2 linked regions of the Homo sapiens genome follow. The protein of the gene in region 1 purifies or fractionates together with the protein of each later gene. This does not show direct contact. Each region holds a gene or a part of one and is shown on either strand. Other genes may lie near its edges. The genes, in order: C17orf75 and MVK.

Region 1 (3,817 bases):
AAACTTTTATGTAGTTTTCCTTACAAAGGGGAAATATAGCAGATACTCTCTTATTTTCATTTTCAGATGAGGAAATAAACTCAGAGTTTATGTAAACTTAAGTCATGAGGCTGGTCAAATTGATGGAGTTCAGGCTTAAACATGAGCATTCTTAGTCCAATTCCAACTGTCTTTCCATTACACCTCTCCTTTTTTGTTTTGTTTTGTTTTTTTTAAGACAGAGTCTCACTCTGTTGCCCAGACTGGAGTACAGTAGCATGATCTTGGCTTACTGCAACCTCCGCCTCCCTGGTTCAAGCAATTCTCCTGCCTCAGCCTCCCGAATAGCTGGGATTACAGGCATGCACCACCATACCCGGCTAATTTTTGTATTTTTAGTAGAGATGGGGTTTCACCATGTTGGCCAGGCTGGTCTCGAACTCCTGACCTCAGGTGATTCACCCGCCTTGGCCTCCCAAAGTGCTGGGATTACAGGTGTGAGCCACTGTGCCCGGCCTCCATTACACCTCTTTATTCTAGTTCAACTCAGACCGTGAAGTTAGCATACAGGTCCTCAGGAGTTTGAGGCCACTTCCCAAGGATAAGGCCACCTTCAGGCACATCTGCCTTAAACATCAATTTGTGAAGCTTTGGGAGAGGGGAGAACATACTTTTTTTTAATATAAACATGGGTATGAACTAGAGTGAAATTTGTGTGAATTTTTCACATAAGACAGGAGAATTCAAAGAAATTTCATGTATGTTAGTGGCTGCTTTAACTAAAGCCCTCCAGGGTATACATTCATTTTTCTTTGCTGCTGCAAGTACACCAACGAGAAGTCTGGGAAGCTCTGAGTTAGTGGGCAGTTTAATGGTGTTGCCAGATCAAGATGACCAGAATTCAGAGCAGTCCACAAAATTATAGATGCATGAGTAACCAAAATAATGCATTTTACATTTTCTTTCTTTTCTAGAATTCCAGGTTACCGAGTTGGTTGTTATTACTGCCTTTTCCAAAATGAAAAACTGCTTCCTGAAACAGTAACGATAGACTCTGAACGTAACCCTTCAGAATATGTGGTCTGTTTTTTAGGAGGGTCTGAAAAAGGACTTGAGCTATATCCTTTCTTTGGTTTTTGAGAACATCAGGAAGGAAAACATGGGAAGGCAGGTGGAAGAATATTACTACCAACCTCCAAAAAGCTTTTCTACTCCTCGTGTATTTAGTTGAATTTCATACCTTCATGTGGCCATTTTGCCTTGGCTTGTTTGCATTTGCAGCTCACATTATTTGAGAGATTTTATATTTCTTGTTGAGAGATGAAATACTGTCTTCATTATTCATCCTTTATTGCTTCCTTAAGAACATACTTTCAGGCTTGAATTGGACAAGTACATTCAAGGGCTGAAAAATAACATGAATTGTGAGGTAAGGTGACTGACTTAATGGTTTTTAAAGACTGAAATGGGGCCAGGCTCAGTGGCTCACGCCTGTAATCCCAGCACTTTGGGAGGCCGAGGTGGGCAGATCACAAGGTCAGAGACCAGCCTGGTCAATATGATGAAACTTCATCTCTACTAAAACTTAGCCAGGCATGGTGGCAGGCACCTGTAGTCCCAGCTACTTGGGAGGCTGAGGCAGGAGAATCGCTTGAACCCGGGAGGCAGAGGTTTCAGTGAGCCGAGATTGCACCACTGCACTCCAGCCTGAGCGACAGAGTTAAAAAAATAAAATAATGACTGAAATGATTAATATACTGTGATTGCTCTACTTGTCAAATCATATAGGTAGACACAAAGACGCCTGTATTCTAGAAACTTGCCACCTTGTGAGCTAGTAGAGAGGTGAATTTTTTTTTTTTTTAGACAGGGTCTTGCTTTGTTGCCCAGGCTGCAGGGCAGTGGCGCGATCAGGCTCACTGCAGCCTCAGCTTCTTGGGGCTCAAGCAGTCTTCTCGCCTCAGCCTCCTAAACAGCTGGGACTACAGGCAAATACCAACACGCCTGGCTAACTTTTGGTATTTTTTGTCGAGATGGGGATCTCACTTTGTTGCCCAGGCTGGTCTAGGATTCCTGGCCTCAAGCAATCCTCCCTCCTCAGCCACCCAAAGTGCTGAGATTACAGACACGAGCCATTGTGCCCAGCCTACAGGTGGTTTCTTTTTCTTTTTCATTTTTTGAGATAGGGTCTCACTCTATCACCCAGGCTGGAGTGCAGTGGCACGATCATGGCTTACTGCAGCCTTTTCTGGGCTCCAGCGATCCTCCCACCTCAGCCTCCCAAGTAGCTGGTACCACAGGCATGCACCACCATGCCCAGCTAATTGTATTTTTGGTAGAGGTGGGGTTTTGCCATATTGCCCAGGCTTGTCTTGAACTCTTGAACTGCTGAGCTCAAGTAATCCACCTGCCTCGGCCTCCCAAAGTGCTGGGATTACAGGTATGAACCACTGCACCCAGCCTACAGGTGATCTTAAAGGGATACAGGAAACATAGTCCTGTAAGTGCTGAAAGTTTCACAAGACTACGTCTGATGTTTTGTATCTATGAAAAATTCGATCTATTCAATGGCATGTAGTAACATGCCTGGCGAGGAAGAGGATGTCCTTTTCCTGATTTCTAGGCATATAAGATTTATATTATGGTCAGAAGTACTGGTCCATGCAGCCTCTGGCACCAAAGACATGCTATGCAATAGTATGGCTGTTCTTGAACTAAACATCAAAGATTCTTAAAAACATTCTATTTTCATTAATTGATCTTTTATGAATTAGGCATATCCATATCAACTTATTCAAACCTTTGAAAAACTGGCTGGGTGTGGTGGCTCACACCTGTAATCTCAGCACTTTGAGAGGCCAAAGCGGGCAGATCACTTGAGCCCAGGAGTTCAAGGCCAGCCTGGGCAACAAAGTGAAACCCCATCTCTACAACAAATACAAAAATTAGCCAGGCATGGTGGCACGCACCTGTAGTCCCAGCTACTTGGGAGGCTGAGGTGGGAGGATCGCTTGAGCCTGGGAAGTTGAGGCTGCAGTGAGCTATGATTGCACCACTGCACTCCAGCCTGGATGACAGAGTGAGACCCTGTCTCAAAAAAGCAAACAAAAACAATGCTTTCAGCTTGTAGCAGTTGTTAGTCATGACTCTCACAAATTTACTACCCATTACATATATAGTAGAAGTTATACTTTTCACATACTTAGAAGATACTGCAGGAGAGAGGAAGGGATAGTGCAGGAGTGAGCAACTGATGCAAGTCTAATAGAGTTGTTCTCCCGGACTAGAGCTCTTCGTGTGTGACACTAGTCTTCAGGGAGCAGTATAGCCTAGAAAGCCAGATGTGCTCACGGTAGCATGTCTGACATCTGGAGTGGAGTGGAGTGCTTTGATGAGTTACTTGTATCCTTCCCCATTCACATTCTGAATACGAATGAATTCTCTATCTACATGACTAATTCAAAAGGCACTTAATAAGCTCATACTATGCATGTTTTAGACACTGTACCACAGGTGCCAGGGAAATGAGGATTATTGAGTGAGTATCTCCATTGAGTGCACAGTACAGTGGGAGGAGAGGGACTTGTGAGTGCCCAACTCTTCCCTGTGAAGAAATAGCATGGAACCCTATTCAGTCTCTTCATTTTATAGAATGCATTTCTTGGTGTGTTTTAAATAAATTCAGTACAGATTTAACCCTCACCCTGCCCAACAAGCCAGGAAAGGTATATCACAATTTCTTTTTTTGAATTGGTGGTGTTAGCTTTAAAAAGGGAGGTGTCTATCCTGGTCTTTTTCACCATCAAGGATATGATGAAGAAAATATGAAGTCCACTAA
Region 2 (3,817 bases), on another chromosome or scaffold:
TTCCAAGTAGCTGGGACTACAGGTGCGCACCACCATGCCTGGCTAAATTTTTAAATTTTTGTAGAGATGGAGTCTCACTGTGTTGCCCAGGCTGGTCTCAAACTCCTGGGCTCATGTGATCCAACTGCCTTGGCCTCTGAAAGTGCTGGGATTAGAGGCATGAGCGACTGCACCCGGCCCCAGCCTCTCTGTTGTTGTTTTTGTTGTTTTTGTTTTTGTCCAGAACCCAAAGGGAAAAAAACCTCAAGGGGGCAGCCCTTCCCTTGAGCAGCAGATGCTGGCTCAGTGGCCAGGCTCTATGCTGAGGACACATTCGGAAACGGCCTGATACTTGCCGTCCGAAGCAGAATTTCAACTTGAGAGAGGCATGTCCCCTTAAGTGGGTGAGGGGCATTCCAGAATCTTCCAGGCTGGGTGGGGTGGGTACGTGGAATTTGAAGACGCACATTATTACAATTTTTCTATTTGGGAAATGGGAAAAGCACTTCGTGGAAATTACCAAACATGAAGTTTGACAGTTCTTGCTTGGGGGAAATACATGTAAGATGTAGCGATTCGGACCTTTCTGGTGATCAAAAGCAGACCCGTGTTACACATGGTTGGGGAGCACCGTCTGGCGGGAGAGGCCCCGGTGAACACACAATCCTAGTGTGCGGTGGTGAGGCAGCGGTGGAGGGAGGGAGGGCAGGCGGGGGTCCTAGAAGGGGAGCCAGGAGGGTCTTTGTGGGCAGCTACGGAAAGTGTCACAGTGGAAGCGACATTTGATAAGGCCTTGAGAGATGGGTAGGGATTTCTCTGTGGGATAAGGAGGTGCACGGCTATTGCAGGCAGAGGGGCCAGCCTGTGCTCAGAGCAGGCCCACAGAAAAGCCTAGCATGTGGGCACAGGAAGGAGGTGGGAGAAAGGGGTTGACAGCTTGCCAGGTGCTTCTGGGAAGGGCTCTGGTTGAATGACCCAGGGATTTAAATGAACTTGATACCTGTTTTCTAGTTGTCTGATTCAGCATGAGTTCCTGATGTTCAATAGGGATACATTTGGGGTCAGGAATTCTCCCCCAGTTGAGAAAACTGGACCAGATGCTTGGAGTCAGGCCTGGGCCTGGCCCCTGGTTCAGTGCTGGCACCCCACTGCCCTGCGGGAGAGTCACGTTTCACACCCTGGTGTGTTTCAGGGCCCTGCCGAGCCTGGATATCGTAGTGTGGTCGGAGCTGCCCCCCGGGGCGGGCTTGGGCTCCAGCGCCGCCTACTCGGTGTGTCTGGCAGCAGCCCTCCTGACTGTGTGCGAGGAGATCCCAAACCCGCTGAAGGACGGGGATTGCGTCAACAGGTAACCATGGTCCTTACCTGGCCAGTGTCCCTCCCGCACGGCAGGACAGGGACGTGGCTTCTCTCACTGAGACCTCACCACCTCCCTGTGAGGTGAGAGGTGTCATAGTGGCCATTTTAACATGAGGAAGCTGAGCCCCGAGAGGTCAAATGGCTGGCCCAGGGCCACACAGCTAGTGCTGGCAGAGTGGGATTTGAACTCAGAGTCTGAGCTTTTCTCTCCTGCTCTCCACCACCTCTGCTCACCCCCATCTTGGCTCTGTTGGTTTCAAGCGCCCATGGTATGGTAGAAAGAGCTGGAGTCCAGATCTAGAGGGCAGCAGGTTAGATGAACCCTCCCACCTCTGCATTGACTCAGGCTAGGACAGTGTTCTCCTCTGTATGGTAATGACAGTGCCCTAGGGGTGATTGTCCAGTTTTACCACATGGTTATGAAAGAAACTAAGAGTTTGCTGAGAAATCCACATTAGGGGGTGTGCCCATTAGACTAGGGCATCTCTCCTCCTACGGGGCCGTCTCCACGGAGGGCGTGTCACCTCTCTGCGTTCCTATTGACCACGTGAGTCAGTGAGGCCTGTCCAGACAGGCTTGACCACAGACCATTTCTATCATTAGGAGAATGTTCCTTGAGAAACCACCCAGTGCGCAGAGGTTACGCAGTTTGTCCCAGGACCAGGAGTTGTGGATGAGGCCCCCAAATGCAGAGCTCTGTCCTCTTCCTGGGCTTGTTTTTGTTTTGTTTTGTTTTGTTTTCTGAGCTTGGTTTTTTTGTTTGTTTGTTTGTTTGTTTGTTTGTTTGTTTTTTGAGATGGAGTCTCGCTCTGTCACCCAGGCTGGAGTGCAGTGGTGTGATCTTGGCTCACTGCAACCTCTGCCTCCAGGTTCAAGTGATTTTCCACGGGCCAAAGGACTGGCCCTGTCTTTCAAAAGGTGGAGGGTGACTGTGTGTGTGCACTTGCATGTGTGTGTGTTCTTATGCTGCTTCTAACCATTTCTCCCACCTTCCCCTGAAGGCCAGTCATTCCTTCTCAGAACCCTTAGGGAGAGTAGACCTCCCACCCCACCCCACCCCACCACACCCCACCCATCATGTGTTTCTGAGTCGGAAAGGACTGGAGCCCAGTCTCCTTTGAAGACTCAAATCTGAGCCCCCTAAAAAACAAACTGTGTAGAGCAGGAGGAAGACTCACATTTGTTGAGAGGGCCAGGCCCTGGGCTAGGTCAGCTGCCTGAGTTACCTTCCCCCGCCTCCATCACTCACTTCATCCCAGGCACGCTGCCACCTGTTGGTCCCTGGGAAGGGCCAGCCAGCTCTGGTGTGGTTCCAGTGCTGCACAAGTGGTGTGTCTGGAATGCACCCCACACACACACCTTGCCCAGCTGGCTCCCCTTGTCCTTCAGGCACCACCACCCCGCCCCAGCCCCCAGCAATTCAGCCCATCGTACTCTTACAGAAACACCTGGTTTGTTTTTGTTTTTGTTTTTTTAACTATATTATCATTTATTAAATGTAATTAGGTAGCTCTGGATCCTTGGTCTGTTTTTTTTTTCTTTTATTATTATTATACTTTAAGTTTTAGGGTACATGTGCACAATGTGCAGGTTAGTTACATATGTATACATGTGCCATGCTGGTGTGCTGCACCCATTAGCTCATCATTTAGCATTAGGTATATCTCCTAATGCTATCCCTCCCCTCTCCCCCCATCCCACCACAGTCCCCAGAGTGTGATGTTCCCCTTCCTGTGTCCATGTGTTCTCATTGTTCAATTCCCACCTATGAGTGAGAATATGCGGTGTTTGGTTTTTTGTTCTTGCGATAGTTTACTGAGAATGATGATTTCCAATTTCATCCATGTCCCTACAAAGGACATGAACTCATCATTTTTTATGGCTGCATAGTGTTCCATGGTGTATATGTGCCACATTTTCTTAATCCAGTCTATCATTGTTGGACATTTGGGTGGGTTCCAAGTCTTTGCTATTGTGAATAGTGCTGCAATAAACACACGTGTGCATGTGTCTTTATAGCAGCATGATTTATAGTCCTTTGGGTATATACCCAGTAATGGGATGGCTGGGTCAAATGGTATTTCTAGTTCTACATCCCTGAGGAATCGCCACACTGACTTCCACAATGGTTGAACTAGTTTACAGTCCCACCAACAGTGTAAAAGTGTTCCTATTTCTCCACATCCTCTCCAGCACCTGTTGAGAAACACCTGCTTTGAAGTCACATATTGCAGTGTCATGGATTTGTTTGTATTTGAATACTGATCGCTTTCTGACCTTCACTTTCTCCATTAGACTCTAAGCTCCAAGAAGTCAGGGACCTTGTCTGTTTTGCTCCCTACTAGGAGCTTAGTCACAGGCACATAGCAGTTGCTCAATAAATGCTGAATGAATAAGTGAGTGTATCTTGTTGGCACCATTAAGTTAGTAGCTAAGAGCTTGGGCTCCAAGTCAGCAGATGTGGTCCTGACCCAGCAGT

Evidence for each region.
Region 2: the proteins of C17orf75 (region 1) and MVK purify together in Homo sapiens (affinity purification with mass spectrometry; one large-scale study listed by BioGRID and IntAct). This does not show direct contact.

The regions. Positions count from the first base shown.
Region 1 is NC_000017.11:32,335,488-32,339,304, reverse strand, and holds part of C17orf75 (protein Njmu-R1), read left to right. Parts: intron 1-953; coding exon 954-1,097; intron 1,098-1,350; coding exon 1,351-1,408; intron 1,409-3,817. UniProt on the Homo sapiens protein: As component of the WDR11 complex acts together with TBC1D23 to facilitate the golgin-mediated capture of vesicles generated using AP-1. May have a role in spermatogenesis.
Region 2 is NC_000012.12:109,580,224-109,584,040, forward strand, and holds part of MVK (mevalonate kinase), read left to right. Parts: intron 1-1,171; coding exon 1,172-1,327; intron 1,328-3,817. UniProt on the Homo sapiens protein: Catalyzes the phosphorylation of mevalonate to mevalonate 5-phosphate, a key step in isoprenoid and cholesterol biosynthesis.